2 separate regions of the Homo sapiens genome follow, and region 1 is linked to region 2. Evidence: fine-mapped expression QTL. A gene starts in region 2. The other region holds a variant in brackets. All regions are shown on one strand. Distances are between the middles of the regions. Region 1 has its middle 14 kb from the start of SP6. Region 2 holds the start of OSBPL7 (oxysterol binding protein like 7).

Evidence for each region. PIP is the estimated chance that this variant, and not a neighbour inherited with it, causes the effect.
Region 1: its variant is fine-mapped to the expression of OSBPL7 in cerebellum (GTEx, PIP 0.99).

What each region holds. Positions count from the first base shown.
Region 1 is chr17:47,856,946-47,872,537 of GRCh38, reverse strand. It overlaps a transcript of SP6 not described here. Among named protein-coding and RNA genes, the nearest start is that of SP6, 14 kb to the right of the region's middle. RefSeq lists a cis regulatory region at 4,987-5,789 and enhancers at 4,670-5,869, 5,515-6,025. The variant T/C (reference allele first, on the strand shown) is at 8,615.
Region 2 is chr17:47,817,908-47,825,907 of GRCh38, reverse strand. OSBPL7 (oxysterol binding protein like 7) reads left to right here and starts at 4,114. Exons shown (of 23, transcript NM_145798.3): 1 at 4,114-4,242; 2 at 5,543-5,704; 3 at 5,812-5,937; 4 at 6,126-6,179; 5 at 6,809-6,922; 6 at 7,292-7,402; 7 at 7,522-7,639. The coding sequence starts at 5,630. It overlaps MRPL10 (mitochondrial ribosomal protein L10), which reads left to right. Exons shown (of 5, transcript NM_145255.4): 5 at 1,450-2,636. The coding sequence ends at 1,703. RefSeq lists an enhancer at 3,656-3,825 and a silencer at 3,936-4,151.

The DNA.
Region 1 (15,592 bases), 43 kb before region 2:
AATTACCCTCCTCCCCATCGCCGCCGCCGCCGCCGCCACTGAGCCTCCTGCGTCCGCTGGGCCTTACTCACCCCCGCCCGGCCTGTAGCTCCCCCCACGGCCCAGACGCAGGGAACTCCCCTCCCGGGTCCCAAACTGTCCTTTCCCGGCAAACAACCTCGCTGGCTTCCCCCAACACGCCTGCAAGCCGGCTCCGGGAGGAGCAGACCCTGCCGGGGTTTGTCTCGGGGAGAGAGACCTGAAAGGATATTTCTGGTTTGGATACATCCCCAACCCGGACCTCTGCCCGAGAACCGATCTGGGATTGGGCTCTGGGCACGCGCCTGCATTGTGCAACATCTGGACAGGGGTTGCACCTGTTGGGACTTGTTCCCAGTTGAGGTTGGAACTACCTGCGACCCTGATACCTGGGAGAAAACACCCCATGATAGCTTCTCTTTTTTTCTTCCCCTTTTCCTATTTTTCAACCACTTGTTTACCTATTTGCTGTAAAGGAAATGAAAGAGAGGGAGACAGAGAAATAGATTGGGCCTGAGACAAACCCACACCCCAACGAATCAAACCTAGAGAGGGGATCCCAAGAAAGAGCTACTCTTCCAGCAAAGAAACAGACCAGAGGCCGGGCGCGGTGGCTGACGCCTGTAATCCCAGCACTTTGGGAGGCCAAGGCAGGTGGATTGCCTGAGCTCAGGGGTTCAAAACCAGCCTGGGCAACATGGTGAAACCCCGTCTCTACTAAAAATACAAAAAAATTAGTCAGGCATGGTGGCAGGCACCTGTAGTCCCAGCTACTCGGGAGGCCGAGGCAGGAGAATCGCTTGAATCCGGGAGGCAGAGGTTGTGGTGAGCCAAGATCACGCCACTGCACTCCAGCCTGGGTGACAGAGCAAAACTCTGTTTCAAAAAAAAAAAAAAAGAAAGAAACAGAAACAGAGACCAGATGGGGATACAGAGGCAGGAACACATGCTATGCAGAGAGTTGGAGGCACAGAGACAAAAAGAGAAATGGAGAGGTTTTCACTTATCTTAAGTGGAGACGAAAGAAGACCTAGAACAAACAATTATAATCACAGAAAGCAAACTTCTCATTCTTATTAAATCTTGAGTAATTCTTAAGAAAATGGGCCAGTGAGGTTGAATGAAGACTGGACTTGGAGGGAGAAGTGGGGACAGATAGTAAGAGGTATTGGTATGAGCCAAGACTCTTAAGTTATGAACAGACAGTCACATATCACAATGGTTTGCACACAGTAGGTGCTCAATAAATGATGACAGATGCAGGCAGATAGCTGACTCCTCTCTTCTAGGGCCAGAGCTGAAAGCTTAAATGATAGTAATAGGGATATAGGATGGGCTTCTGGAGGAACTTTCCAAGTGTGGGCACCATTCATTCATCCAGTAAACATTTATGGAATGCCTACTGTGTGCCAGACACTGTTCTGGGTGCTTATGATACAATTAGTGAACAAAACAAAAATCCCTGGAATACTCGATCGAGGGTTATGAACTCCACCTGCTAGAAGGAGGGTCAGAAGAGAAGAATCCCTCTTCTCAGCACATTTTAGGGGAGCTAATTAGGGAGGATGAGTTTGGGGGCAGGGAGTATGAATTTTCCAGAAAACTAGGGAAGGTGAACCCCAGACTCTAGGTTATAGAGCCCATCAAACCAGTGGAGAGAAAGTTGCCAGTGGGACATCACTGAGTTCAGCGCAGGAGGAGGTGGATGTTCCTGAAGTCACACAAAACCGGCAGAGTTTCATTCTCTGGCGTGGCTGGGGGTTCTGGGGTGCCAATTAGGAAACCCGGATGTTTAGGATCCCTTCCCAGCTGGATACCCTATGTCAAGGACAAGTACCTCCATGTGTTCATGCTTGGGTGGTGAAGTTCTTTGCAGTGAAAACCCAGCAAGCTTAGGACCCCGTAAACTGATCTGATCTCTCCCTGTCTCCAGACAGGTCAGTCTTTAAATAATCCTGGCTTTTGTTCACCCCCTCCAAGGACTTCTTACCACCCCAGTTATCAGGAAGTCCAGCTCAAAGCCCTCTCCCTCAGTGGCAGGAGGGGAAATCAATGCCTCCTGCCTTTTTCCTGGGTGGAGAGAAAGAAGCAGGGATGTCATTTGATGAGGTGGGGACCAGCAGCTTCTTCACAAACACTCTCCACCCCTCCAAAGCTATCTCTTTTAGACCCTGAAGCAGAGGAGGGAGATGAAAGGGACAGAGCTGACCACGAGAGGTGGAGAGGGTAGGACCCTGACTGGGAACAGATTTCAGGAGCAGATAGTGGGGGTAGGGCAGAGGACAGCAGGGATCCCAGTTATCTCATTGGTTCCCTTGGCATCAAAGCATTCATTGGTTTTTAGCAAAGTGAAATAGGTTAGTGTGTCTGAGGATTGCAGTGGGGATGGGGGTAGGGAATAGGGTGTATCAATGTGTTGGCTCTGCACAGCCTCCTGTCTTTCTTCCCCCTACACACACACAGTCCAGAAATTCTCTGAGAATCTAGCCTCACCAGGGCTTCATTCTGGAGCAAACTCTTTGATCTTCCAACTGAGGAAAGAGACAAATGTGAGAGCCCCTTAAAGGAATCATAAGACAAAGTATTGGCTTGATATGTAAAAATGTTTAATGTAAATGTTTATTGAACTATGAAATGCATATAGAAAAGTGTTATAAATATAGAACATACATAAATCATAAGCACAAAACTGGGTGAATTTTCACAAAATGAACATACCTGGGTAACCAACACTCAGCTCAAGGAACAGAAGGTTACCAACACCCCAAAGCACCCATTATCCCACCTTCAGGTTATTAAACCCCCCAAAAGTAAGGAATCTCTATTCTGACTCCAAAGAGTGTAGATTAGTTTTTCTGGCTGTTTTTGACCTTCAAGTAGGTGAGATCATGCACTGTGTTTACGCCTTTAGAGCCAGCCTCTTTCACTCTGAGTGTCCGTGAGATTCGTCCTTTGCTTGAGTTTGAACCCAACTGCAATAGGAGGGACAGGATGCATCAGGATTATCCCCCTTTGGGTGTCAAACTCAGGCTCTCCTGAGATCCCTGTCAGCCCCCTTTTCAGAGTTTGGTGTTAGCACCCTCAATTTGCTGTACCTCCAGACTCCCCAGATCCCAAACAGGATGAGGACTGGGAGATCCTGCCCTCTTGGTCCTCCTATCCAAGCTAAGATCGCTGGTCCCAGACCACACCCCTCCAAAGGGATTCCAGAGGAAGTCCCCAACCTGGGCGGGGTTAATTAGATGGTGCTTTGAGATCTCAGGATGAAAGGACTGCCTAGGGCCATTGTCCTTGGCCTCCTGTCCAGCTTGGCAGGGGAGGGGAGGCAGTACCCTGTCCCTTCAGGCCCAAAGGATGGGGCATTAGTTTATTGGGAGTGGCACTGCCAGGCTCTGGAGGACTCTGTTCTGAGAAGCTCCTGCTCATAGAAGCAGGGAGCCCAGGGCCAAGATATGGGGGAGTGGGGAGTCAAGGGCTCACGCCCCTGGGGTCTGCCTCCCCGCCTCCTGGGCAGCACTCAGACAGCCCGGCTCTGGTGCCGTGTGTGGTTTCAGGATAAGCTGCCGATGCCACCCAGAGCGCCCTGCTGACAGACAAGGATCTCACCTGCTTTCAAAGACGCCCTTTCATCTGCCAGGGCTAATTACACCTGCAGAGCGGAGAAGAGGGCACTGGAGCCAGCCCCCTCCTTCTTCCCCCATCCCGCTCCCAAGCCCCCTACCTCAGGAACCCTTCTCCTCCCTCCCCTCTGCCTGTTCCAAAGCTCCGTGGCAGCCTCAGCACCTGCCAATTATGGCTTCTCTAGTGACAAGTGGCCCTGGCTCCTTGGAAGGAGGGTGTGTGAGAGCAGAGGGCTTGAAGATGGGTCTATGCGTATGCATGATGGTCGGGGTTAGGAGGGTCTGGCTGGCATTAGGAGGCTACTAGGGAGTAGGTGAGGGCCTCGTGAGTGTGAAAGCTCTGTCCCTTGGTGGAGGTCAGGAGCACTTTGGCTCTGATGTAGGCAGCTCTGGGTTGGCTGCCCACGTATGAAAGTGGGAAGGCTCAGTGCCCCCCACTGGCTGTGTAGGCAAGTGGCTTCCAAGACTTGGGTCGTCCCCATGGTACTTGATGCTTTTTCCTCTTCCAGCACTTCGAGTGCTGCTTTGCAACACTCTGCTCATGTGACTGAGTCTCCCGCCACCTTGTAAACACATGTGTACAGGAGGCACCATGTTGGTCCATCTTTGCACTTCATTATCATAGTATTTGCTCACTGCACACACTTGCCCGAATGGGAGTGGAGAGTGTGTGAGGGACCACTTGGGTGAAGGGGATCCCGGGAGTGTTTGGGGGCCTGTTGGCATGGCGAGGCTCTGTGCTGCAGTGAGTGGGGTGTGCCTGCTCCAGTGGTCACTGTGGGCTGCTGCGGCCACAGTGTATGCCTGCACTGGGGTCTGGATGAACCTCTGGGTAAGTGATGACCTAAGAGGATGTGTGACTGAGTGAGGGCGTGTGTGCATGTGTGTGCGCATGTGCATGCTGGTGGAGGCTCTATGTGTGTGGCTGCATGTCATGCTCTGTTCGGGAGGAACTATATCTCCCTGTGAGGGGTGGTTGGGGGACACACAGGCAGTGTGGCTGTGCTTGAGGATCTGCCAAAGGCTTCCAGTGGGGGTGAGATCTTTAGAAGGGCAGATGAAGTCTTCAGACAGATTCTTCCTTCCCAGGCTCCTCACCTCAAAACTGGGAGAGAAAAAACAGTAAGAGCCCATTTTCTTCCCCAGAATGGGGCAAGCGAGAGGGAGCTACACCATAACCACAGTGCCTTACTCCGCTCCTGGTCCAAAGGAACAGATGAAATGCCAGCAACAGGTTTCCACGGAGGCCCAGGAAGCTGAGTGGGTCCATGGGGGTGGGGGTGGGAGGATCGGAGCCTCCACTGACTGTGTGGCCAAGTGGTGGTCTACCCTTGCACAAGAGGCGTGATTCCACACTTTCTGAGATCATTACGGGTTCTTCACTCAGTCTCTTAATGTTCCTGCCACCAAAAAGCAAATAAGTTTTGGTGTCTAACCCAAGTCCTCTAGAGGTATTTCAGGCCTAGCCAGGGCCCTGCCCTCCCACTGTCAGAATTCTTAGATAGACACGAAGAATTGACAACCAGGACCCTGGATCCTCAAGTCAGGGTCACTGACATGATGGTTTCTCCACTCTCTCTCTAAGCCTCATTGCTTCTCTTCACCCTCCCACATCCCCTCTTCTGACCCCGCCTGTCTCTGGGAAATGTCATTCCCTGAGCTCCTCCTGACAGCAGGTACTTCTGGCATCTAACCGACTTATCTCATGCTCTCAGGCCCTGTTTGGGGACTGGTGCAGGGGGACCCTCACTGGGGCAGCGCGATAAGACGGGGTCTGACGGCCTGGCTGAGGTCATCAGCCGCCGAAGTACGTCAGCGATGGGTGTGTACGTCCCAGCCGGCCGCACAACCTCGCTTTCATCCTTTGTTCCTGCCAGCCCGGCCCATTCCCACCACAGATTCTCAGATTCCCAGCGTGGCGTGTCCGATGAGCAGGAGTCTTCGCCTGGACACGATCCTCTCCTGGCCCTGCCCTCTGCTCACCTCCCCCTCCCTGTCTCCCTCCCAGCCACTTTCAGAGGGGCAGTCGCTTTCCATCTCCCCACTGCCCTCTCCTTGCCAAGCCTCCAATGGCCACCAGAGGAATTGTGATTGGACACAAGGGAGAACATTTGGGGATGTTGCCAAGCGGGAACTTGGCAGGTGGTGGGTCCCTCTTTCCAGAGTGCCGATCAGCGGGTTGGGTGGGAAAGAAACATGCGTGCCTGGGGGAAGATGGGTGGGCAAGGCGATTTCTCCATCTCCCATCAGGCCGCGGATGCGATCCCAGAGCCTTTGTTCACGGTGGCTGTCTGGCTACTCCGGTCCGGCAGCCAATCCCCAAACATTTCTACATTCACCCTGGCTTAAAACTAGGTTTCCACATCACTGGAATGGTTGTTTGTATTTGGCCCTCCCATTTGCCTGCGTCATCTCTGGCAGGGATTTGAACCCTATCTCCTGGCTCCCAGCCCCTTCCCAGGCATCACCATGGCCCCCAACCTGGGCCCATCTTCCTCCTTGTCTCCAGGCAGTCCGTGGCTTGGATTTTCTACTCCATACCCCTCCTCACATCTTCCTTGACCTCATTCTCCAAGAAACCCTCTCAGAGACCCCTCCCTGGCCTTGCCTCCACCTTTCTTCCCTGCCCTCCCTCTCCTCATCCTGATACCCACGTTCTTTCCAGCCAGAGTCTTCCCGTTTCTCTTCTCTTCTGGGTGCTTGTGAATGTCAGGTCTGTATCCCCTCCCACCCCAGTTAGGTGCTCCTCAGGGACAGGAACCTTTATATTTCCCCCAATTCCCAGAAAAGCCATGAGACCAGAGCTTGGAGAAGTGAGGGAGAGGAGGAGGGCAATTATCAGGGGAGATGATGAAAAATTGGTAAGAGCTGAAGCATAAAGATGAAGCATGTCTCCCCTGAGCCCTGGCCTGGTGATCAGTGTAGAGAAGAGAAAGGAAGAGCTATGAACATTTAGTGGGGTAGATGGGGTGGGGAGAGAAAAATTACCCATCATTCCTCTTGTGGGTCTGAAGGGAGGTCCCCTGGAAGTTTTTCAAAGCGAAGACCAGGAGAGGTGAAATGGTATGTTTGGGGCAGCATGGGGGCCTGATGACTGGGGATGGAGGGAACCCACTGCACCAGCTCTTCTTTCTAGACTTTGCCCCTAGGGATAGCAGCAGCATTTGGATGCTGTTTGCTCACTGGAGCAACCCAGTGTCATAAAGGTGCTAACAAAAGTCCCCAGGCACCCTCCGATCCTGGCCTGGAAGAGAACCCACTGGTTCTTATCCTGGATCTGCCATTAATTAATTTGCTGAGTGATCTCTGGCAAGTCTCTTAACTTCTCTGGGCCTCCCTTTCCTGTCCTCACCCCTCAACAGCAGGAACAGGTGCCTGAGGGGGGAGGTGGAGCCTTCCCCAGGGTGGCTTGGAGGCAGGAGGATGGAGGAGGGTTGGACCCTCTCAGAGGCTCTTTCGGTCCTGGTGGTTGGAGCCAAGCGGTACCTTCTTGGACACTTTCCCTGGTCAGTCGGGGAGGTTGACAAGGGGGACACGGCGCCGTTTCACTCCTGAGAGGAGCATGAATCTATCCAAAGCTTCTCTTCCTACTCCCCCTCAGGATGGCTCCCGGAAATCCCTTTTGCACCCTGGGTCCCCTCCCCTAATGTTTCCCCTCCTCCTGCACAAGAGCAAGAGCACACCCTTAGGAAAGAGACTAGCCCAGCACTCCTGATGAGCAATAATTTGTTTTATGACAGAAAAGGAAATTGTCTTCAGTTTCACAAGAGCGAAACGAATTCGTTTGAAGTAGTTTGCCCTGCGGCAGGCAGGAGAAGGTTTCTCTCTAGAGCTTGCTTTCGCTCTCCTTCTCTCCCCCTCTCTCCCTCTCCCCTTCTAATTACTGCAGCTTCCAAGCTGTTGGCATGAGTCGATGCCAGGCTGTCAGATGCCAACTGCCCCAGGATCTCATCTCTTGGGTGTGGATAGGGGGATGGAGCCACAGGAACAAGGTAGGGTGGCTCTCAGTTCAGCCTCTGCCATGCCTGAAGCCTTACCTGGCACCATCAGGTAGAGAGGAGGAGGGCGGGGGCAAAGAGCAGCAAGACAAGACCCAGGAGAGCAATCACGTCCAGGGCACATCCCGGGCCTTGGAAGACCACTGGCACCTTCGGTGCCCAGAGAGGGCCTGTTAGAGGCTGGGGGGCTTTCCTGTAAGAGCTGCCCATATTTCTCGAACAGCCTTCCTTCTTCATTCTCTGTGATTGCAGCCTGGAAGCTGGAAGTCCCTGTGGGCATCTGGGCAAGGAACTGGACCATGACCACCTACTGGTGTCCAGACTCAAAGATTCGGCAGGGTGCCGTGGCTCACACCTGTAATCCCAGCACTTTGGGAGGCCAATATGGGAGGATCACTTGAAGCCAGGAGTTTGAGATCAGCCTGGATAACACAGCGAGACACCCATCTCTACAAAAAAAAAAAATTAAAAATTAGCTGGATGTGGTGGCGCACCTGTAGTCCCAGCTACTTGGAAGGCTGAGTCAGGAGGATTGCTTGAGCCCAGGAGTTAGAGGCTTCTGCAAGCTATGATGGCGCCACTGCACTCCAGCCTGGGAAATAGAGTAAAATCTTGTCTCTTAAACAACAAAAAACAAAAACAAAAACAAAAACAAAAAAAGGAAAAAAGACTCAAAGACTCATTCAGAGGTGGACAGAATGGAATGGAGAGGACAGCACTTGTGGATAATCAATGCTCTCATTAAGAAGTCCAGTGTAGGCCAGGCGTGGTGGCTCACGCCTGTAATCCCAGCACTTTGGGAGGCCAAGGTGAGTGGATCACCTGAGGTCAGGAGTTCGAGACCAGCCTGACCAACATGGTGAAACCCCATCTCTACTAAAAAAAAAAAAAAAAAAAAAAGCCAGGCGCGGTAGCTCATGCCTGTAATCCCAGCACTTTGGGAGGCCGAGGCAGGCTAACATGGTGAAACCCCATCTC[T/C]ACTAAAAATACAAAAAATTAGCCGGGCTTGGTGGTGGGCACCTGTAGTCCCAGCTACTTGGGAGGCTGAGGCAGGAGAATGGCGTGAACCCAGGAGGCGGAGCTTGCAGTGAGCCGAGATCGCGCCACTGCACTCCAGCCTGGGCGACAGAGCGAGACTCCATCTCAAAAAAAAAAAAAAAAAATACAAAATTAGGCGTGGTGGCACATGCCTGTAATCCCAGCTACTTGGGAGGCTGAGGCAAGAGAATTGCTTGGACCCGGGAGGCAGAGGTTGCAGTGAGCGGAGATGGCGCCATTGCACTCCAGCCTGGGCAACAAGAGAGAAACTCTGTCTCAAAAAAAAAAAAAAAAAAGAAGAAGAAGTCCAGTGGACCAGTGGACTGAAAAATCATGGGACCCTCCTATGCCCACTTAAGGGCCCCCTTCCTCCCTCCCTTCCTTCTTTCTTCCCTTCCTTCCTTCATCTATTCGTCCTTCCATTAACTTATTCAACAAACTTACAAAGCACTTATAGAGTCCCAGGCACCATTCCAAGCACTGGGAGTAGTGCAATGAACGAAACCCCCTGCCTCCATGAAGCTTACATTCTAGTGAGGATGTTAGCTTTGGGGGAAGAGGCTGTACCAAGCACATGCCTGGAACAGGGAAGGAGCTTAAAAATATCTGTGGAATGAGTGACTAAATGCCCAGAATGAATCAGAGGTGACACTGCAAATGTTCAGCTGGTGGGTAAAAAAGAATGACTTGCTTAACCCATTCCCTGCCATGCTCCATCCCATCCTCCTTTCCTGCCCAGAGGGCCCTCCTGCTGTGGTCCAAGGGGCAGCTGGCTGTGCAGAGAGCAGGCAGACACCAGGCTCCAGGACTGCCAACCTGGCACCGCTGCTTGGCGCTGGGCGCCCTCTAAAACAACAAACTTCGTGTCTCTAATTTGGCACTTCCTGTTTATCTTTATATTATCTCCTGTCCTTGAAGCTCACAGGCTCAATCAAGGATAATGCAAAGGGCCAGAACTTTGGGGACTCAGAGATGGAAGAGGCAAGGGTGCCCTCTCTGCCAGGGTTCTAGGCTGCGCCCACAGGCACTGAGCAGAGGTCTGAAGTCCAATGCTCCAGGCACTACAGGAGGCTGAGTCTCCTCTGCACCTACACAACAGGAAGTCCCACATGCTGGGTTCTAGTTGTCCCAGGTTCATAGATCAATGCCACTTTTTCCCCTCTACGAATCTTGGTTTTCTGAACACCACAGAATAGGAAGGATTCAGCAGGAGAATCCCCTAGCTTCACTGCTGTCTCTTTCTCATCCGCACATGGCTTGGAATCACTTCTTAATGAATGACTTAACTCCTTTCACAGCCTTTGAGAAATGGATCTAACTCTGGGTGCTTTACCTTTTTTTTTTTTTTTTTTTTTTGAGACAAAGTCTCGCTCTGTGGCCCAGGCTGGAGTGCAGTGTTGCGATCTCAGTTCACTGCAACCTTCACTTCCCAGGTTCAAACGATTCTCGTGCCTCAGCCTCCCAAGTAGCTTGGACTACAGGCGTGTGCCACCACACCCAATTTTTTTTTTTTTTTTTTTGAGACTTAGTCTTGCTCTGTCACCCAGCCTGGAGGGCAGTGGCACGATCTCAGTTCATTGCAACCTCTGCCTCCCAGGTTCAAGCAATTCTTCTGCCTCAGCCTCCCAAGTTGCTGGGATTATAGGCACCCGCCACCAGACCTGGCTAATTTTTGTATTTCATAGAGATGGAGTTTCACCACGTTGGCCAGGCTGGTCTCGAACTCCTGACCTCCGGTGATCCACTCATCTTGGCCTCTCAAACAGCTGGGATTACAGGCATGAGCCACCACCATGCCAGGCTTTTTTTTTTTTTTTCTGAGACAGGGTCTCATTCTGTCTCCCAGGCTGGAATGCAGTGGTGTGATCATAGCTCACTGCAGCCTTGACCTCCTGGGCTCAGGTGATCCTCCTACCTCAGCCTCCCAAGTAGCTGGGACTACAGGCACCCTCACCATGCCCAACTAATTTTTGTACTTTTTGTAGAAATGGGGTCTGGCTATGTTGCCCAAGCTGGTCTTGAATCCCTGGGCTTAAGCAGTCTGCCCACTTTGGCCTCCTAAAGTGCCAGGATTATAGGTGTGAGCCACCGTGGCTGGCTGCCTCAGGTTTTGTTTTTTTTTCCAGACGGAGTCTCACTCTGTCTGAGTGAGACCCAGGCTGGAGTGCAGTGGCATGATCTTGGCTCACTGCAACCTCTGCCTCCTGGGTTCAAGCGATTCTTGTGCCTCAGCTTCCCAAGTAGCTGGGACTACAGGCGCGCACCGCCATGCCTGGCTAATTTTTGTATTTTTGGTAGAGATGGGTTTTCACCATGTTGGCCAGGCTGGTCTCGAACTCCTGACCTCAAGTGATCCACCCACCTCGGCTTCCCAAAGTGCTGGGATTACAGGCATAAGCCACTGCGCCTGGCCTTCAGGTTCTTGAATCCATACTCTAGGCACTTGAAAGATGAAGCTTCCTCTAGACATTGAAGTCCGCCTGGGATCAGCTGACTCTTGGAACCAAGTGAATGTGTCCACTATGCTGGGCATCAAGATGGCTGCCCTGTGGGTGGTAGGATCAGGGCAGATTCCAGACAGGCCCCCACCCCGGCCAGAGGGGCAGCCTCTGCCACCCCCAGAGCTCCAGGTAATAACCTACGGGCCACACCAGGCTCGCCAGCACCTGAGCCACCGGCAGCAGATAATGACGGGGGAGCTGGGCAGTCAGAGCCAACCCCTCAATCAGGAAGCAAATTAAAAAGGGGAGGAATCTCCCAGACAGACCACAACAATGAGACCGGCCCCCTTTCCAGGGCACTGCCCTCCTTCCCCCTACCCGCCTGATTCCGCCTGCCAGGTCCTGATACCCAGCCTCCTCTCTAATTCCCCTCTCGTGGGATCCTGCTGGAGGTTCTCTGGATGACCCTGGCTGCGGGTTGGTGGCCGTGCCCAGCTGACCAGGACACAGGATACTGGGCCTCTTATGGAGCCTTGTCTGCCACCCCTGACCTTGGATTCCTGACAGGGCACTGGGCACAGTGTCAGGGTGAAAGAGGAAGGGTCAGGGCATGTTTTTGATGCAGTGTCTTGAAGGCCATGAGGCCAACTCTCAGTGATGTGACAAAAGGGATTTATTTATTTATTTATTTATTTATTTATTTTAACTTTTTTTTTTTTTTTGTAGAGTCGGAGTCTTACTATGTTGCCCAGGCTGGTTTGCAACTCCTGGCCTCAAGTAATCCTCCCGCCTCCGCCTCCCAAAGTGCTGGGGTTACAGGCATGGGCCATTGCACCCAGCCGACAAGGGGATTTATAGAGAACTCACCAACCTCTGACCTGGCAGCCCCTTGTCCTCTGCAAAGGGTGTAAATTCAATCCAGTGCAACATATATTTATTGCACACTCAGTACTAGTTGCTGTATAAGATGCTGGGGGAGATTCAAAGATGAACAGAAATTTCCAGTCCCTCAAGGAACTCACGATCTTACACATGCACACAGCTAATTGTATTACCCATCAGAGAATATTAAACGCTCTATATTTTAGAACTATGGGAGCACAGAAAAGTACAACTTGAAAAACTGGAGAAGGCTTTAGAGAGCATGGGGACATAGGAGTTGGGATTTAAAAGATCCATAGGAGCTCATCAGGCAGAGAAATGGGGAAGAGCATTTCACACATGGAACAGTGTGGGGCGTGAAAATATGTGGACGGTAAGGATGGAGTAGAAGCCTCCTGGGGAGTGGGAAGGGATGTGGCTGGAAAGGGAGGCTGAGGCCAGATGGGGAATGGGGCTTCAATCCTAGGCCTAAGAGTGTAGATTTTCTCCTGTAGGTAATGGGGGGCTATTGAATGTTTTTGAGCTGAGGCACGACATGACTGGGATCTTTCCACCCTTGTAAGAAGTTTAAATTCCTACCGAGGGACTGAGGGGATTCTGCTTTTTCTGCCTCTGCCTGTCTCCGTGACTGACACCCAGCCAGCCTTTTCTCTCGGCTCCACTTACCGCCCTTGCTCCTTTGCCCCAAACCTCCAATTCCTTGTTCCAAGCAGGGTGACAGGGTGGGGAGCTTCACTCTCCCTCAGCCCTCACTCCAACCCTGCATGTCCCAGATACTCTGTGGGTCCTTCCACTTCCATCACACAACCAGGGCCAGCCAGGGGGACAGTAGGAAGCTGTGTGTGCTTACTTCATGGATCTTTGGGTTTTAAGTTCCCCGACCCAGGCTTCTGCCTTCACTGATGCCCTCCCCAAGCTGAGGAGCTTCTGGAAGCTTGGATTCTGGGGAGCCCTTTCTCTAATTCACTCAGCTGTGGCTTATCCATCCCTTTCTCAAAGAAAGGCTCTGGCCTGAGGACCCTGTGGCATGAAAGGATAGAGTTCTTGCCCTCAAGGATTCAACCAGTAGAGAAGATAAGAAAACAAGCCCATGGAAGCAGAGCATGAGGCAATAAGTGCTGAGGAAGTTCAGAGGAGCATGCCAGTGATGTGCGGATAAGAGAAGCCTTTGCAGAGAAAGCCGCCTATGTGCCAGCCAGGAGCTTGAAGGATAATGTGCTTTCCAGAGGCAAGAATGGCTGGCAGGGGTGGAAATGATTTCGACAAAGGTAGGAAGGCTGGACATGTTTGGTGAACATTAAATCCATTGGGCTGAGCTGGGCTGTAGGGTTTGTATGAGGACCAGCGGGAGAGAAGACTGCGTAGGTGAAGTGGGAGGGTCCTGGATGACACATTTAGCACTGTGGAGCCACTGGATGTGTTGGAGATGGGAAGTGCCAAGATGGAGTGGCACTTTAGGATGATTAGGCCAGGCATCATATCTCACGCCTGTAATCCCAGCCCTTTGGGAGGCTGAGGCAGGTGGATCACCTGAGGCCAGGAGTTCTAGAGGAGACTGGTCAACGTGGTGAAACTCCGTCTCTACCAAAAATACAAAAATTAGCCAGGCATGATGGTGGGTGCCTGTAATCCCGGTTACTTGGGAGGTTGAGGCATGAGAATCACTTGAACCCAGGAGGCTGAGGTTGCAGTGAGCCAAGATGGCGCCACTGCACTCCAGTCTGGGTGATAGAGGGAGACTGTCTCAAAAAAAAAAAAAAAAAAAAAAAAAAAGATGCTTCATCTGTCATTAATTAGGTGCAGGAAAGCTTAGGTTGGTGGGTACAGAAGTGGCATAGGAGACCTGAAAATTAATCGAGACAAGTAGTAATTTTTGTCAGCAAGTTGACACTTCCACAGAATTTCCACAGACCAGTGCCCATTTCCACCTCATTTGTCAATTAAACAAATATTTGTAAGATACTTGCTAAGTACCAGACACCATTTTAGGCTCTTTCTTCATCATCTTCCCCTGCCCTAAGATAAAAAGATGAAGGTAAACTCTCACCTGCACACACTTGGGAGATCTTACTTAGCCCAGCCTCCCCCTTGCAGCCTAAGCGAATCCAGTAGTGTCTGCCTTTGGAGCAGGTATATTGAGAAAAATCAGAGAACTACATGCAGTAAGGATTTGGGGGACAGTGAGGTAAGCAAGCTTAGGGGTGGGAGGAAGAGTAGCTTGGAAAGCAGAAAGCAGTTGGTGGGTGGGAAAAGGGAAGTTGACAGCTGAGTGTAGGGGAGCCCTGGGATCTTTAGGGGAGGGAGGCTGGGCAAGGAGGAGAAAGATGGAAGGAAGAACAGTAGGAGATGGGCCTCTGGGGCTGAGGATGGGGGCCGGAGGGAGGAACAAATTAGAGAGCTGAAGAAGGAAGTAGAGTCTTAGCAGCTAGGGGCGGGAGGAGGAGGTGGGAGACCGAGAGGCGAGGGCAGAGGAAATAGGCCCAGGCACTGGAGACGAAAGTCTGGGAGTCTGAGCCGCTGAGGAGCCACCTGGAAGGTGCAGGCAGCGGCAACATCAAACCTGAGATCCGAGGGCTGGCGCTGGGAGTGAGCTGCTGGAGTTGGGGGAGGTGGCTCGTGTGGGGGCCAGGGGGCGGGTAGGGGAGCTGAGATCAAGAGAGAGGGGCTTGAATTGAATCTACCCTCAGCCCCACTGGGTCTTCAGCTTCCTCAGCCCCCTCCCCTCTTCTGGCTCCAAAGGCCAGAAGCCAGGACTCTGCAGTCCCGCCCCCCACTCCAAGCTACAGGCCGCATGGCACCCACCCATAGCTTTCCCAGCTCCTCTCTCCCGCCCATCACTGGTGTTAGGAAAACACATTGTCTGGAGGTGCGAATAGAGGAGGAAAGGGGGTCTCCTGCCAGGTAGGGTGCTGGCTGTGTTCATTGCTGTCCAGGCAGGGTCTAAACACACCCCTGACTGATCCAGAGGCCAGGGGAAGGTGTGTGGGCCTGAAGGTCCAGGTTGAGGGCTGGGTCTTTTTCCTCTCCCAAACTCCCCCCCAACCCCAAGATTCTCCCATCTTTTGGACTGGACCTGCTACCTAAGCATATGGAACCGATTGAAAGAATTTGTATGCTCACCTTATAATTTATGCAAATCAACTCTGTAATTAACTATAATTTGGAGGCATCCTTTGGTATTTGAGACATTTATCCATGAGGAAATGCCCTAGTGATAATGCTCCCGTATTAACATTATTTACTCCACCTGTGTGGTCTCCTCAGCTTGTTTCCCCTCCCCACTCTGATTTTCTGTGCTGGAAGGTGGGGAGGGACAGGGAAGCCCCTCCCTGGAGCCTGCCTCAGTCCTGATGCCTGGGTTCCCCCAGGGGGTTGTGCTGGCCCTGTCCTCCCAATTTTGCCTAAGATTGAAGAAAGAGGTCCAGCTCTGCCTCCTAAGCCCTCTAATACTCTATTCTCTCCTGCTTGATGGGTGGCTTTCTGCTGAGCTTTTACCTCTTCAGGGCCTCAGTGTTCTCATCTCTGAAATGGGGAGAGGAAGGACCTGTCAGGGCCTTTATGGGATAATTGCTGAAAAGTTAATGAAGAGACTGGG
Region 2 (8,000 bases):
TCAGCCTCCCAAAGTGCTGGGGTTACAGGCATGAGCCACCGCTCCTGGTGAATCTGTGATTTTAATACCCCCTCAACACTCCATGATATTTATTCAATTTTTTAATTGTAAAATACACACAAAATTTACCATCTTAACCATTTTAAATGTACAGTTCCGTGTTAAGTACATTCATAATGCTATGCAACATCACCACCATCCATCTCCAGAACGTTTTGTCTTCTAACAGTGAAACTCTACACCCATTAAACAATAGTTCCCCGTTACTTCCCTCCATTCCATGATTCAGGGTCTCACTCCCATTGCCCAGGCTGGAGTGCAGTGGTCCGGTCATGGCTCACAGCAGCCTGGACCTCCTTGGCTTAATCCATCCTCCCACCTTAACTTCCTAAGTAGCTGGGACTACAGGCGCATGCCACCATGTCCAGCTAATTTTTGTATTTTTTGTATTTGTATTCACCATGTTGCCCAGGCTTGTCTTGAACTGCTAGTTTCAAGCAATTATGCCACCTTGGCCTCCTGAAGTGTTGGGATTACAGGCGTTTTCCACTGCACCCAGCCTGATTCTTTGTTTTTTTGAGACGGAGTTTCGCAGTTGTTGCCCAGGCTGGAGTGCAATGGCGTGATCTCAGCTCACTGCAACCTCCGCCTCCCAGGTTTAAGCGATTCTCTTGCCTCAGCCTCCCAAGTAGCTGGGATTACAGGTGCTTGCCACCATGCCTGGCTAATTTTTGTATTTTTAGTAGAAACGGGGTTTCACCATGTTGGCCAGGTTGATCTCAAACTCCTGACCTCAGGTGATCCACCGACCTTGGTCTCCCAAAGTGCTGGGATTACAGGCTTGAGCCACCGTACCCAACCTCATCCTGATTCTTTTTTTTTTTTTTTTTTTTGAGACGAAGTTTTGCTCTTGTCACCCAGGCTGGAGTGCAATGGCACGATCTCAGCTTACTGTAACCTCTACCTCCCGGGTTCAAACGATTCTCCTGCCTCAGCCTCCCGAGTGGCTTGGATTACAGGCGCTCGCCACCATGCCTGGCTAATTTTTGTATTTTTAGTAGAGACGGGGTTTCTCCATGTTGGCCAGGCTGGTCTTGAACTCCTGACCTCAGGTGATCTGCCTGCCTCAGCCTCCCAAAGTGCTGGGATTACAGGCATGAGCCACCACACCTGGCTGCCTGATTCTTATTTACAAGGAAGTTTAGGAAACACTGACTTAATAGGGGTCAGGGCCAGGTGGATATATTAAGAGTTTTCTGAGGGAAGAGTGAAGAAGTAGGGATCGATCCCAAGCAGAGTGGGTGTGGTGTGGGGCACAGTGGAACCCAGGTCCTGGGGAAGGCAGGATTTTGAGAAGGGCAATGGAGAGCAAGTTACTAGGGTCAGAATATTGTTTTCAGAGAAGAAAGGCAATCTGCAAGGAGCCTAACTGACCCTGTGTTCTTCCAGGTGGCTGCATTGATGACACCATCCTCAGCAGGCAGGGCTTTATCAACTACTCCAAGCTCCCCAGCCTGCCCCTGGTGCAGGGGGAGCTTGTAGGAGGCCTCACCTGCCTCACAGCCCAGACCCACTCCCTGCTCCAGCACCAGCCCCTCCAGCTGACCACCCTGTTGGACCAGTACATCAGAGAGCAACGCGAGAAGGATTCTGTCATGTCGGCCAATGGGAAGCCAGATCCTGACACTGTTCCGGACTCGTAGCCAGCCTGTTTAGCCAGCCCTGCGCATAAATACACTCTGCGTTATTGGCTGTGCTCTCCTCAATGGGACATGTGGAAGAACTTGGGGTCGGGGAGTGTGTTTGTCACTTGGTTTTCACTAGTAATGATATTGTCAGGTATAGGGCCACTTGGAGATGCAGAGGATTCCATTTCAGATGTCAGTCACCGGCTTCGTCCTTAGTTTTCCCAACTTGGGACGTGATAGGAGCAAAGTCTCTCCATTCTCCAGGTCCAAGGCAGAGATCCTGAAAAGATAGGGCTATTGTCCCCTGCCTCCTTGGTCACTGCCTCTTGCTGCACGGGCTCCTGAGCCCACCCCCTTGGGGCACAACCTGCCACTGCCACAGTAGCTCAACCAAGCAGTTGTGCTGAGAATGGCACCTGGTGAGAGCCTGCTGTGTGCCAGGCTTTGTGCTGAGTGCTGTACATGTATTAGTTCCTTTACTGCTGACCACATTGTACCCATTTCACAGAGAAGGAGCAGAGAAATTAAGTGGCTTGCTCAAGGTCATGCAGTTAGTAAGTGGCAGAACAGGGACTTGAACCAAGCCCTCTGCTCTGAAGACCGCGTCCTGAATTTCTTCACTAGAGCTTCCTCATCAGGTTACCCAGAAGTGGGTCCCATCCACCATCCAGGTGTGCTTGGATGTTAGTTCTCCACCCTCGAGGTGTACGCTGTGAAAAGTTTGGGAGCACTGCTTTATAATAAAATGAAATATATTCTACTTCCTTTATTTTGTGGTTTACACGGTTGTCCTCCCTCTAAACTTACTCTCAGGGGCTTCTCTGTCATCTGACTTTCCTCACTCTTGCTTCCCTTCCTAGGAAAATCCTCTTCCCCTATACCTGTTCCCACAAATGGCATCCCGCGCATGCTTGCCCTATTAAAGGCAGCTGACAGCTGTACCCACTAGCTAACGTGTCTCTGGTGGTTCTGGACAAAAGGCCTGCGGGAAAACTAGGATTCTCTATTAATGGGGAATTCTGAGAGCTCTAGGGTAGGAGGCCTCATGCAAGTCTTCATGAACCAGAAATTCCTAATAAAGGAGACGGGATGCTTAACTCAGAGTCCACCATCATCCTTGACTGGAGCACATTCTGGGTGGATGCAGGGGTGACCCGGGGAAGGTGGCTGTTCAACATTCCTTCTCGGACTTGAAGCAATGCCACCGCTTCCTTAGTCTTGGACAGGCACTGTCTGGCAGGGATGACCTGCAGCAGCTCTTTTGTGGCCTGGGCCAGGACCAGCTTCCCCCAGTGCCTCATCCTGTGCTGTATGCCCAGGGATGTTCAATCACTGGGAAGTGGCTTAAAAGGCCCTTGAGGCTCCTGGATGCCAGAGCTTGTCTGGTCAGTGCTGCCCAGTGCTCCTGTCCCTCCCAGAACCCTGCCAGGTGCTAACAACACCCTCCTCCTGGGGTGGCTGGAGCAGCACTGAGGCTCTGAATAAAGGCAAGACAGTGGGTGTTCCCGAGAGATATGTGAGACCCTGAAACGTAAACCAAGCTCGGTGAGGATGAAGTGGAAGGGATAAGTGGCCCATGTCACTTTTGGGGTCAGAGAAGAAACTTGAATCACATCCTTCACCTGAGGCCCCACCTACTTCTTTCCAGAAAACTTAGCTGCGCTTGAAACTGTAGGTCTATGCCACATTCATTTGAATGAATTTTAGATCTTTGTTAAGAGCCGATTTTTCATTAGAATTGAGCAGCTGGGCACAGTACTCCAGCAGAAGGGTAAAGGGAAGGGAGGGGACCAGCATTGCAGCCCTTTTAACGGCAGCTGTGACTGCCCCAGGCCTGCTCCTGATCAGAGACTGCAGGCTGTGGGGTGTCTTCATACACACAAGCACTTTCAGATCTCCATGGGGCCTGACCTAGTGGGGCATCACCCCAGTGAAGGGCCTCAGTGTGGGGACTGCTGGCTGTCCCTTTCCTGGCTTGACTGCCCCTGCTGACTGTGCTCTTGGCACTCTCTTATGGTCCCAGAGGGGGCATCTGTCCCTCCACCATCAACCTGATACTTTTGCTGGCTCCAAATTTTGCAGTCTATTTTCAGATGTAAAATGAGAGGCGGGGGGCGGGGGTTAATTAGGAATTGGCCTTGGGTACTAACAGGGTCACTGCCATGCTAGTCTGAATAAATCCTTTATCACCACTGGCGTACAGCCAACAGTTCCCCAGTCCTCTGATCTATCTGGAACCATGCCCAGCAGGGACTGTGCCCCCACTCCCAAGCCACATCGATGCTAGGGCAGTCTGCTCAGCCCTGAGTCCTCCGGGGAGCAGGGGGGCAGAGCTGAGCGGCTGCCCGGAGCTTGGCGGGAGGAGGGGACAGGGGAGAGGGAGGTGGGGAGATCCGGCTAGAGGGGAGGCTCTGACATCTCCTTCCTTCCTGGTTCCTGCAGCAGCTGCTGCCACTGCTCAGCGCGGTGAGGAGGGAGCCGGTGACTCGGAGACGGTGACTCAGAGGCAGAGCGGCGCAAGGGCCAAGGAGTACTGGCGTCCATGGACCCTGGGGTAAGGGGGCTGCGTGGCAGCAGCTGACATTCCTGAGAAGAGCTTCCTCCCACCTGAAGCTGGTGGGTCTGCTCCTGAATAGAGGTGGAGAGGGGGCACCCACCTGGCTCACCTAGACCCTTCACCTGCCTACCGATAGAGCCTCCCCCTCTACCCACAAGCAGTGAGGGGCCAGGATCCCCACAGGGCCGGGAGAAGGGCCCAGAGATACCTGAACACCGGAAGAGTTTGAGAACTTTCAATGGCTGAATGCAGGAGTTTCCTCCCAGGTCAGCCTCTTGCAGCAAGGGTCCCTCTGCCCCAACCTCCTGGGCACCCGTTCCTGCCACATCCCTGTCCCCTCTGGGCCTCAGTTCCTCAGGTGCTTGCTAGCTCCATTAGAAGATCTGGGCTGCTTCCCCCACCTCAAACCAGCCTCGCCCCTCCAGTCCCCTCCCCCGTCTCACACATGCAGAGCCTCATGCATTATTGATCTCCCGGTGGAGCCAGGATGGCCAGGGCCAGTGCCAAGGGTGCCTGTGGGCACTGCTGCAGGACCTGTGCAGACCTGGGCATGTCCTGGGCCCCCTCTTCTCTCATGAAGTATCTCCTTTAGCCCAATGTCCTGCCCTCTCTGGGTGGGTGGCACTTCTCAGAGCCCCAAGGACTGTGAGGGTAGACAGGGGATGGTGAGGCTTTAGGGGGTACTGAGGGTCCAAAAAGGGCATCCTAGGGGCATGTTTGGTGGGAGGAGACATGGGAAAATGGGGGCTATCTCAGGCCTCAGTTTCTCCAAGCACTAGATAATATGGAGATTAATTGGTGGGAGGCTGGGGAGTTTTCTGCAAGATCATGGCAGAGAAGTCTCTGAGCTACGGTGGCAGGGTGGAGGGGTCCTGAAGGCAGAGGCAGCTGGATTGAGGAGGTCTCGCTTGTCCAGTCTCTGAACCCCTCTGTCTCTTCTTGGAGCCTCTTCTGTCACTCCCTTGCTTCACCTCTGAGCACTCCCAGGGAAGCCTCTAAAGAAAGCACTGAATGTTTCTTGGAGCCCCAGAGTATGTGCCCAAGGCGGGGCTGGGCATATGTCTTGTGGTTTTCCCTGGGCACCTGCCCGTCTGCTGTGTGCTAGTTCACTCTCAGGGCAGTGTCCATATCAGGTGAAAATGGGTGGGGTCGGGACAGAGGGGCAGACTTGGGAGAGGCTTGGCAGGTGAGCAGAGGGTATGTTGGGGAGCCCTTATCTCAGAGGGTGTGGGAGGGGCTGGAGGTGGGGAAGGTGATAGCAGAGTTTGCGTTAAGGGGGTCTTTCTCTTGCTTCAAGGACCCCGTCAGGAGCAGGTGACATCCTTCCCCTTCCACCCTGCTCCCTGCTCTACATCCCCAGCAGGGAGTGGCCTCTCCCTTCTCCATGGACTTCCAAGAGAGGGACCCGCCCTTCCTGCCTGAGAGCGCTCAGTCCTCAAAGCCCAGCAGTGCTCAGCAGGTCAGAGAGTGGGAAAGCGGTGGTGGGTGGGCCAAGCTGGAACCAGACAGGGAGGGGCCAAGGCGGACGTCTCACCAGTGCTCCCCTCCCTCTGTCCTGGACTGCAGGCCTCTGAGCTGTGGGAGGTGGTGGAGGAGCCTCGGGTCAGGCTGGGGACAGAGGGTGTCATGCCTGAGAGGCAGGAAGGTCACCTGCTCAAGAAGAGGAAGTGGCCTCTGAAGGGCTGGCACAAGGTAGGGTGGGCAGGCAAAGGGAGGGTCCAGACATGGGGGGCGGGGTGGGAATGGGGGGCAGCTGCTGGGCAGTCCAATGGTGTTTGCATGATGAGAAGGAAAAGAAAAGCTAATTTGTGTGGTTGCCTTCTCCCTCATGCCCTTCCTCTCGGCCTCCCGGGTCCTGTCACTCCTGGGCAACATCACAGAGATACTTTGTGCTCGAGGACGGGATCCTTCATTATGCAACAACCCGGCAAGACGTGAGCCCGGGCAGTGGCTTGGGGTTGTGGGAGGAGTCTGGCCCCAGTATGCCCTGGGCAGGCATGGGGTATCTGGAATCGACCAGAGCAGGGTCTGAATCCCAGGTCCACCACTTGCTGAATGTGTGATCTCGGGCAAGTTACATCCCTGGGCCATAGCTTCCTCACCTCTAATGGGAGAGCACCATCCCCCAGGTGCAGAGCTGTCATGGTAAGGGAGGTCATACGTACAAGGCTCTCTGGACAGGGCAGAATAAGTGCCCAAGAAATGGGGGCTTTACCACCCTCATCCTGGTCCCATTCTCAGGCTGGGAACAAGGAACTGAAGGCCTGGGTACCCAGGATCTCTCTGGGAGGGTGTTGCCTTCCACAACCCTGCAGACCCCTGAGGGTGGGAATAGTTTTTCTTGATCTGTGACTTCTTAGAGACCAAGATGTGACTTGACGTAGGGGAGCGTTCTGCACATGGGAGGATGATTGACAAGTCTCTACTGATAGTGTGACTTGGACATGAGGGTGAACCTGCCACCTGGCCCTTGAGCCTAGAATGGCATCAGGGAGATGGTGGCTCTATGGCTCTGAGAGCCTAAAACAGGTCCCCTCTCCCTCTACCAACACTTCACCCCCAGATCACCAAGGGGAAGCTCCATGGCTCCATCGATGTCCGGCTGTCGGTCATGTCCATCAACAAAAAGGCCCAGCGCATTGACCTTGACACTGAAGACAACATCTACCACCTCAAGGTGACATCCCTGGGAGGCAGGACGTGTGTTGGCCCCCAACCTGACAGAGGCATTGGAACACACAGGGGCAGGGGCTGAGGGTCTGTGGAACTCAGGGTCTGTCTCTGAGTTTGACAAAAAGTAAGTTTCCATCCTGTAAAAACAGCCAAGGGCAAACCTGCACTTCTTGGTTGTTGTATGGACAGGCACAGAGCTAAGGGCTCAGACACCTGGGCGCCTTGCGCTCTGTCTCCCTGCAAGTGAGCCTTGCACAAACCAGGCTCTGTAAGAAGAGACCCTGCTTGTCTGGGGACCAGAGCCCTGACTTCTTGCTCTTGGAAAGTGGTCCCTCTCTTCAGATAGCCCTCCCCCTCTCCATCACTTCTGCAGATCAAATCCCAGGACCTATTCCAGAGCTGGGTGGCGCAGCTGCGTGCCCACCGCCTAGCCCACCGCCTGGACATGCCCCGTGGCTCACTGCCCAGTACTGCTCACCGGAAGGTAAGGTGGACCCTGGGGTGGGGGCAGGTAATGTGGCAATTCAGGGGCAAGGGCTATGGAGAACTGTGAGACCCAGGGAGGTGGGCATCATCCTTCCTGACCCTGGGCTCACCCCACAGGTTCCTGGTGCCCAGCTTCCAACAGCAGCTACTGCCTCAGCCCTACCTGGGCTTGGACCGCGGGAGAAAGTGTCTTCCTGGCTGAGGGACAGTGATGGGCTGGACCGCTGCTCTCATGGTGAGGGGCCCTAGGCGCAGCACCTCCAAGGGTAGGCCCCAAGCTGGCAGGTCTAGGAGGGGAAAATGTTACCTCCATCCCTGCCTCAGGGAGCCCCAGTTTAATGAGACAGCCTCTGCCTCCAAGGAGATCCAGTCTACCTGGGCCCTGTCTAGGGGAGTCCCAGTCTTACAGAGGAGTAAGAGTCTGCCTGGGCACATAGACAGACGTGGATGCAGGGACAGGAGTTGTGACAAAGCAGATACTGAGTGCCCACACAGGGCAGGGGCCTGAGGAGTAGCGCCAGGGAAGGGGTGTGCTCTAGGAAAGGGTTCCTGCAGTAGGGTCTGTGAAGTTGGCCTGGAGGGAGAAGTGTAAACCA